Linked DNA regions of Homo sapiens. The protein of the gene in region 1 purifies or fractionates together with the protein of each later gene. This does not show direct contact. Each region holds a gene or a part of one and is shown in the gene's direction. Other genes may lie near its edges.

Region 1 (3,817 bases):
TCTGACTAGGCTGTAAAATCTCCAAGGTTTGAGATGCTCAGGCTTTCTTTCTACCTTTTCCCCATTTCCCTTCCTACATTTTAGTTTGGATTTGGGAGGTCTGAGGACACTGTCCATCCCAGTTTCTCATTTTGCTTTCAGAGATTTTGCTATACAAATCTCCTTGTGTGTGTCCATTTGGTGTGAAGGTTATATATGTTCTGGTGGTTGTGTGTGAAGGGTCACAGGATTCAAGTTCCACCATCTCCCTTCTCCACAGGAACCATCATCCTGGACTGTGTCAACATGGACCTTAAAATTGGAAAGGCAACCCCAAAGGACAGCAAATATGTGGAGAAACTAGAGGCCCTTTTCCCAGACCTACCCAAGAGAAATGATATATTTGATTCCCTACAAAAGGCAAAGTTTGATGTATCAGGTATGAAATGTTAGCTGACTTTTCTGCCTCCCAGATAAGAAAACAGAAAGGCAAGCCTTGTTCATTATATTATTTTTTTTTTTTTGAGACAGAGTCTTGCTCTGCCACCCAGGCTAGAGTGCAGTGGCACAATCTTGGCACACTGCAACCTCGACCTCCTGGGTTCAAGCGATTCTCCTGCCTCAGCCTCCCGAGTAGCTGGGATTACAGGCGCCCACCACCACGCCCAGCTAATTTTGGTATTTTTAGTAAAGATCGGGTTTCACCATGTTGACCAGGCTGGTCTTGAACTCTGAAGCTCAGGTGATCTGCCCGCCTGGGCCTCCCAAAGTGCTGGGATTACAGGCATGAGCCACCGCGCCTGGCCAATTATTTAAATTTTATACCAGAAAGAAATGAAGTACCATATTAGCCTAAGCATGAAATAATCAGTCATTTACTGGATTGTTCTATCCTGGCTCTTGGTTAGGATGAGGAGGAATGTATTAAGAGCCTCAGAAGGGCCAGACGCAGTGGCTCACGCCTGTAATCCCAACACTTTGGGAGGCCGAGGTGGGCAGATCACCTGAGGTCAGGAGTTCAAGACCAGCCTAGCTAACATGGTGAAACTCCGTTTCTACTAAAAATACGAAAAATTAGCTGAGCGTGGTGGTGTGTGCCTGTAATCCCATCTACTCAGGAGGCTGAGGCAGGAAAATCGCTTGAACCCGGGAAGTGGAGGTTGCAGTGAGCCGAGATTGCGCCATTGTACTCCAGCTTGGGCAACGACAGCGAAACTCCGTCTCAAAAAAAAACAAAAAGAGCCTCATAGGTTCCAGTCTATTCAGAGAATACAGGACATATATATAAAATATGCTGAGAGTATACTAAATTATCAGAGTGAAATCTATAGAATTGGTTAGGGAGGCAAAAGAAATATTTTGTGAGTAAACAAAAGATGAAGAGAACCCAAAAAAAACTGTATTCTTGTACTCAGCTACCACCTGTTGACATAAAAAGGAAGAAAGAAAGAAAGAACTCACATGTAAACAGTATAGGAAGAGGGAAAGATAAAAAGTAAAAGCCTCTGTTCTGGGTTTCATCCTTCTCTCCAAAGTTACTTGCTCTAAAGGTACCTATTGTCACCAGTTATTTAAGATGGCTTTTGATTATGTGATTACATTTTCTTTCTTTCTTTTTTTTTTTTTTTTTTGAGACAGAGTCCAGGTTCAAGTGATTCTCCTGCTTCAGCCTCCTGAGTAGCTGGGATTACAAGTGCCCGCCACCACACCCAGCTAATTCTTTGTATTTTTAGTAGAGACAGAGTTTCATCATGTTGACCAGGCTGGTCCCAAACTCCTGACCTCAGGTGATCCGCCCACCTCAGCCTCCCAAAGTGCTGGGATTACAGGCCTGAGTCACCGCGCCCGGCTATGATTACATTTTCAATTATCTCCCCCATTCATTGCCCCAAAGAGAGGCTGTTTTTCCTTCCTTGACCCATCTGGCTGTCCTTGCCTTCTTGGTCTTGGGACCCTGGCCTACCCTGTTTGACCCCTAGTCTCTCATCTGCTTTCTAGGACTGACCACTGAGCAGATGCTGAGAAAAGACCAGAAGACTATCTATAGACAAGGCGTCAAGGTGGCCATTAGTGCAATATATATGGATTTGGAGGTAAGAGCAAGTTGTGGCTGTGGGTGGGGAGAGAAAGCCTTTAGCTATGCATGTTATGCATGTGGCCTTGCACCTCATTCCTGGCTCACCTCCAAAATGTATCTTGTGTCTATCTTTGTCTCTACCTCCACTGTGACCACCAGAGTCCAGCATCTCTCACTGCACCGCTGTATTAGCCTCAGTACTGGTGTCCCTGCCTCTGCTTTTGCAGCCCTACAAACCATTCTCCCCGCAGCAGCCAGAGTGGTCTTTTTTAATTTTTTTTTTTTTTTTTTAAGGGAGTCATGCTTTGTTGCCAGGCTAGAGTACAGTGGTACCATCATGGCTCACTGCAGCCTCAACCTTCCAGGCTCAAGCAATCCTCCCACCTTAGCCTCTCGAGTAGCTGGGTCCACAGGTGCACACCACCACACCTAACTAGTGTGTGTGTGTGTGTGTGTGTGTGTGTGTGTGTGCGCGCGCGTGTATGTATGTGTCGATGGGGTCTCACTATGTTGCCCAGGCTGGTCTCAAACTCCTGGCCTCAAGCAGTTCTCCTTTTGGCCTCCGAAGTTCTGGGATTATAGGCGTGAGCCACTGTGCCCGGCCTCATTGTATTTTTAATAAAATCTAAAGGACTTACTGTGGTTTACAGCGCCATGCTTGATCTGGCCCTTGTCTTTTTCTCTGGCCTCATCTCATTCCAGCTCCACTCCTGTTCTACAGTACTGCAGCCACACTGGTTTCTTTTCTGTTCCTCAGAACCATTAAGCTCATTCCCAGCTGAGCTTTTTTCTTTGTAAAGCTGGCTCCTTCTTAACATTCAGGTACTCAGCTCAGATGTCTCTTGTTTTGGGAGGTTTTTCCTGACCACCCTAACTGAAGTACTATCTCCTATGCTCAAAAAACCTCTAGCAGTTATGTATGTATGTTTGTTTGTTTGTTTGTTTTGAGCCTGAGTCTTATTCTGTTGCCCAGGATGGAGTGGAATGGCATGATCTCAGCTCACTGCAACCTCTGCCTCCCGGGTTCAAGTAATTCTCCTGCCTCAGCCTCCCTAGTAGCTGGGATTACTGGTGCGTGCCGGCATGCCCAGCTAATTTTTTGTTTTGTTTTGTTTTGTTTTTGTTTTTTGAGACGGAGTTTCGCTCTTGTCCCCCAGGCTGGAGTGCAATGGCGCAATCTCAGCTCACTGCAACTTCCGCCTCCCTGGTTCAAGCGATTCTCCTGCCTCAGCCTCCTGAGTAGCTGGGATTACAGGCATATGCCCCCATGCCCGGCTAATTTTTGTATTTTTACCAGAGACAGGGTTTCACCATGTTGGCTAGGCTGGTCTCGAACTCCTGACCTCAAGTGATCACCTGCCTCGGCCTCCCAAAGTGCTAGGATTATAGGCGTAAGCGACCGTGCCCGGCCCAAGGATGTTTTATTGATGATGATGAGAAAGTCCTTCATCCCTCTCCGTTTCTTCCCTTTCAGGCCTTTCTGCAGAGGTCTAACCTCCTTGCAGATCTCCATGCTTTCTGCCAGGCTCACAGCTATGATGTCCTGGTTGCCATGACTATCTTTTTCAACACTCACAATGAGCCAGTGCGGCAGTTGGCTATTTTCTGTCCCCATGTGGCACTCCAAACAACGGTGAGTCTGTGTCCCTTCTCCAACCTAAGAGCCTTACAGAGTCTGCCTGTATGTACCTCTGTGCTCTACAGCTGTCCTATAAGGACCTCTCTTAGGTTCTTATATTAATGTACTTACATGAGGTCCCT
Region 2 (3,817 bases), on another chromosome or scaffold:
ATCATTTACTTGAGCAACCAGGAGTGTCTTAAATGCCAACTTCTGATTTAGGTCCTGAGAATATGGAACAGTGCTTCCTTATATCTGAATTGTGCTCTGCAACTTAGAATTTGTTTCACATTTATTATCTCCTTATGATTCAGTATTCCTTACAAAAGTACCTAATGCAACTTTACAGATGAGAAAACTGAGAAGCAGAGAGGCTGGGTGACTTATCCAAGTTGCCTCTGTTTATCATGTCTACTGTTTTTAAGTCCTTTGGCTCTGCACTACCTATTAGCAACTTCCAGGACTTATTCTGGCCATAGCTGCAATCGTTAGACATACCAGGCTTCCTGGGATTATGATGGCAAGGAACATCGGAAAACCTGGTCACCCCATGGTGTATGTCTGGTGGTCACACTGCTACTCAAGTGAAAAGAATAAGAACCATTGCAATCTGTAGTGCATTTTCCCTGTAACCGAGAGCGGGCTTTGCTTCACCTCTCATTTAGGCTCTAGTCCATGCTGGAACATCGGAGTTAGCTCAGCTTAGTCCCTCATGAAGAAATATTTCAACCTGAATGGGTTTTCTGGTGACAGTCTCATTCATTTCCCCTTCTTGGGTTAATTTGCTAAAGCTCACATCTTAAGAATATTTGGGACTGATACACAACATGTGATAATGGATAATGGATAGATTTCCATAATATCAAATAGAAAAAAAGCTACTAAAATATATGGCCAGTGAACCATTGGAGTTTTACACATTGGGAAACATAAATGCTAACTATTTTGATAGCAAAAAGGAATGTAAAATATAACTTCAAATCTATTTTTAAATGGGAACCCTTATATAATAAGTCAAGGGTCAGATTCTAGTGATTCATTTTAAGAAGCAAAGTTTCCTCTCCTTGGAGGTCAAAATTAATAATTATGTTGTTCTAAGTAATATAAAAGACCTACAGTATTTCTTGTTTGAAAAAAATGTTTGTATTCTGAGCTTTTTATTGAAATGATATAAATGAAAATACATGAAGTTCCTATTTGTCACAATTTTTTACTTCTCCATTGTAGGCTGCAACCCCACCCTATGGATGAACAGGTAACAGAGCCTCCTGTTTCAAAACATCTTGTATGAATTATGAAGTTGGTTGTACCGTGCCTAGCCAGCAAATAAGGTAGCATGGGCGGAAGATGAGTGAATACAGTGTGCCATCCTTCTAACAATACCCTGAACAAATATGTATTGCCTGAAGCTCACACAGGAAGTAGCACAGCTTTGAGCAGTTTACTAAGTAAACATCAGTTCTCACCTATTTTAAATTATCCCTGACATAAGATCTAGGAGAGCTCACTTTATGTCCCTTTCCTCTAGTTTTTCCTTACATAAAATGGAGAGAAAAAAGATGTTTTGATCACTTAGAAATAAGCTAACATAAATGATTGTAAAACACTTTGTTAATCTAATAGTATATGATAAGCCCATGAGAAAGACAGTGAATGCTACTGTGTCTGAGTCACCCTGTCATTTACCTCTTAGGTTATAAAATAAAATAAGTCCTACTGCTTTCCTTTTTTTTTTTTTAAATGGAGATAAGGTCTTACTCACATTGCCCAAGCTGGGGTGCAGTGGACGATCTCAGCTCACTGAAGCCTCAACTTCCCGAGCTTAGGCAGTCCTCCCACTTCTGCCTCCCGAGTAGCTAGGGCTGCAGAGATTAGGTTTCACCGTGTTGCCCAGGCTGGTCTCAAACTCCTGGGCTCAAGTGATCTTCCCGCCTTGGCCTCCCAAAGTGCTGGGATTACAGGTGTGAGCTTCCATGCCCTATGCTTGCCATTCTTTTTTTCCTTTTTTTTTTGAGACAGAGTCTCACTCTGTCACCCAGGGTGGAGTGTTGTGGCACAATCTCAGCTCACTGCAACCTCCGCCTCCCAGGTTCAAGTGATTCCCCTGCCTCAGCCTCCCGAGTAGCTGGGATTACAGGCGCCCACCACCATGTCCAACTTTTTTTTTTTTTAATATATATATTTTTGGTAGAGATGGAGTTTTGCCATGTTGGCCAGGCTGGTCTTGAACTCCTGACCTCAAGTGATCTACCTGCCTTGGCCTCCCAAAGTGCTGGCATTACAGGCGTGAGCCACCAGGCCCAGTCCCCAGTGCTTTCCATTCTTGATGGTAGAGTGAACAAGAGGAATGGGATAGTGTTAAAACTTTTTACTCTATACTTGCATGTGTTTGAATTTTCTTTTTAGAAATCATGTTATTATAAAAATTAAGAGCTGGAAGCATAATGATAGGATTATCCGAGTTGTATTATGGTGGTAGGACTACCTATTTATAATTGGTTTAGTTTCCAGATAGTCTATAGTGTGATTATATTAATATTGTAGGTAAAAAATGCATATTCTGAAAGTACTAATATTTCTGGCACTAAGAAAAACTAACCAGCTCCCTGTGTGGTTTAGGATCAGCTGCTGCTCTCTGAAAAGCCACAGTTGTGTCAGCTATGCCAGGAAGACGGCAGCCTAACAAAGGTAACTGTGATGAGAAACGGACAGGCTTTTCATAGGGATGTCTACAGCAGCCCCCAGTCCCTCCCCAGGAGTAACAGGGACTTTCCCGCATAGAGTGCAGAGTGCATGCAGAGTGCTGGGAGTGGGGTGAAAAGCAAAAGGGGCAAGCATTTACTGGGTACCTGTTTTTTCAGTCATAATAATTCATGTCAGAAAATTCCCATTAAAATAAACATAAATAGCCAGGCGCGGTGACTCACGCCTGTAATCCCAGCATTTTGGGAGGCCGAGGCGGGCCGATCACAAGGTCAGGAGTTCAAGACCAGCCTGATCAACATGGTAAAACCCCGTCTGTACTAAAAATACAAAAAAAAAAAAAAAAAAAAATAGCCGGGCGTGGTGGCCTGTAATCCCAGCTACTCAGGTTGCTGAGGCAGGAGAATCGCTTGAACCCGGGAGGCGGAGGTTGCAGTGAGCCAAGATCACACCATTGCACTCCAGCCTGGGCAACAGAGCGAGACTCTGTCTAAAAATAAGTAAATAAATAAACAAACAAAAATAATTATGTAATAAAGCAAATAAGCAGATAGAAATGTATAAGTAAATATTGAGTGCCTGCTGTGTAGAATGTGCTGGAGAAAGAGTAATGAACAAAGTAGACCAAGTCTCTGTTCTTGTCAAGCTTATGTCCTTCATAGCTGTCATTTTATAGATGAAGAACGTTGAACATCTAATGCTAACTACATTTCCCAAAATTAAGTCATAAGTGATGAAGCCCAGCTTCCAACCTAGCTTTCGCTCCAAAGTCCACAGTCCTTTCAGCACTTTATCCTGCTCAGAACAGGATATGAGCTCTCCCTGCTAGACCACTTGTTTTCCACCCGATCCTCAAGGGTGCCTGCCTGAGCATCTTCCCAGTTTGTTATCCTAGAGTAGGCAGAGTTAAGGAAGTATTCAGAAAGAATGAGTGCCCTTGATAGCTGGAACTGTGTCTTGTTCACAGAATCCCCCAGCATCTAATATGGTACCCAATCCATAGTAGATCCTCAAGAAAAGTTATGTACAAATGAGTGTATGAAACACATGCTTGGAAGAGATACAGGAAACAGGCTCAAATTCTGGATCACAACCTGCATAGCACCATCTGTGATCATGCAAAATTTTAATAAATTATAATATGACCTAGTCTTAAATTCACAGAATCAGATAACAAATGAACTGCCCTTATAGAACTGGAAGTTACAATTATAGAAATATGTTACAAAGTAGAACAAACTGTTAATTCTGGCTTTCCTCTTCTAAGCCATGCAATATTAGCTTC

What was found.
Region 2: the proteins of PRUNE1 (region 1) and RUFY3 purify together in Homo sapiens (affinity purification with mass spectrometry; one large-scale study listed by BioGRID and IntAct). This does not show direct contact.

What each region holds. Positions count from the first base shown.
Region 1 is NC_000001.11:151,025,256-151,029,072, forward strand, and holds part of PRUNE1 (exopolyphosphatase PRUNE1), read left to right. Parts: intron 1-259; coding exon 260-418; intron 419-1,977; coding exon 1,978-2,072; intron 2,073-3,530; coding exon 3,531-3,689; intron 3,690-3,817. UniProt on the Homo sapiens protein: Phosphodiesterase (PDE) that has higher activity toward cAMP than cGMP, as substrate. Plays a role in cell proliferation, migration and differentiation, and acts as a negative regulator of NME1. Plays a role in the regulation of neurogenesis.
Region 2 is NC_000004.12:70,801,900-70,805,716, forward strand, and holds part of RUFY3 (protein RUFY3), read left to right. Parts: intron 1-1,056; coding exon 1,057-1,084; exon of another isoform or gene 1,085-1,085; intron 1,086-2,448; coding exon 2,449-2,517; exon of another isoform or gene 2,518-2,519; intron 2,520-3,817. UniProt on the Homo sapiens protein: ARL8 effector that promotes the coupling of endolysosomes to dynein-dynactin for retrograde transport along microtubules. Acts by binding both GTP-bound ARL8 and dynein-dynactin.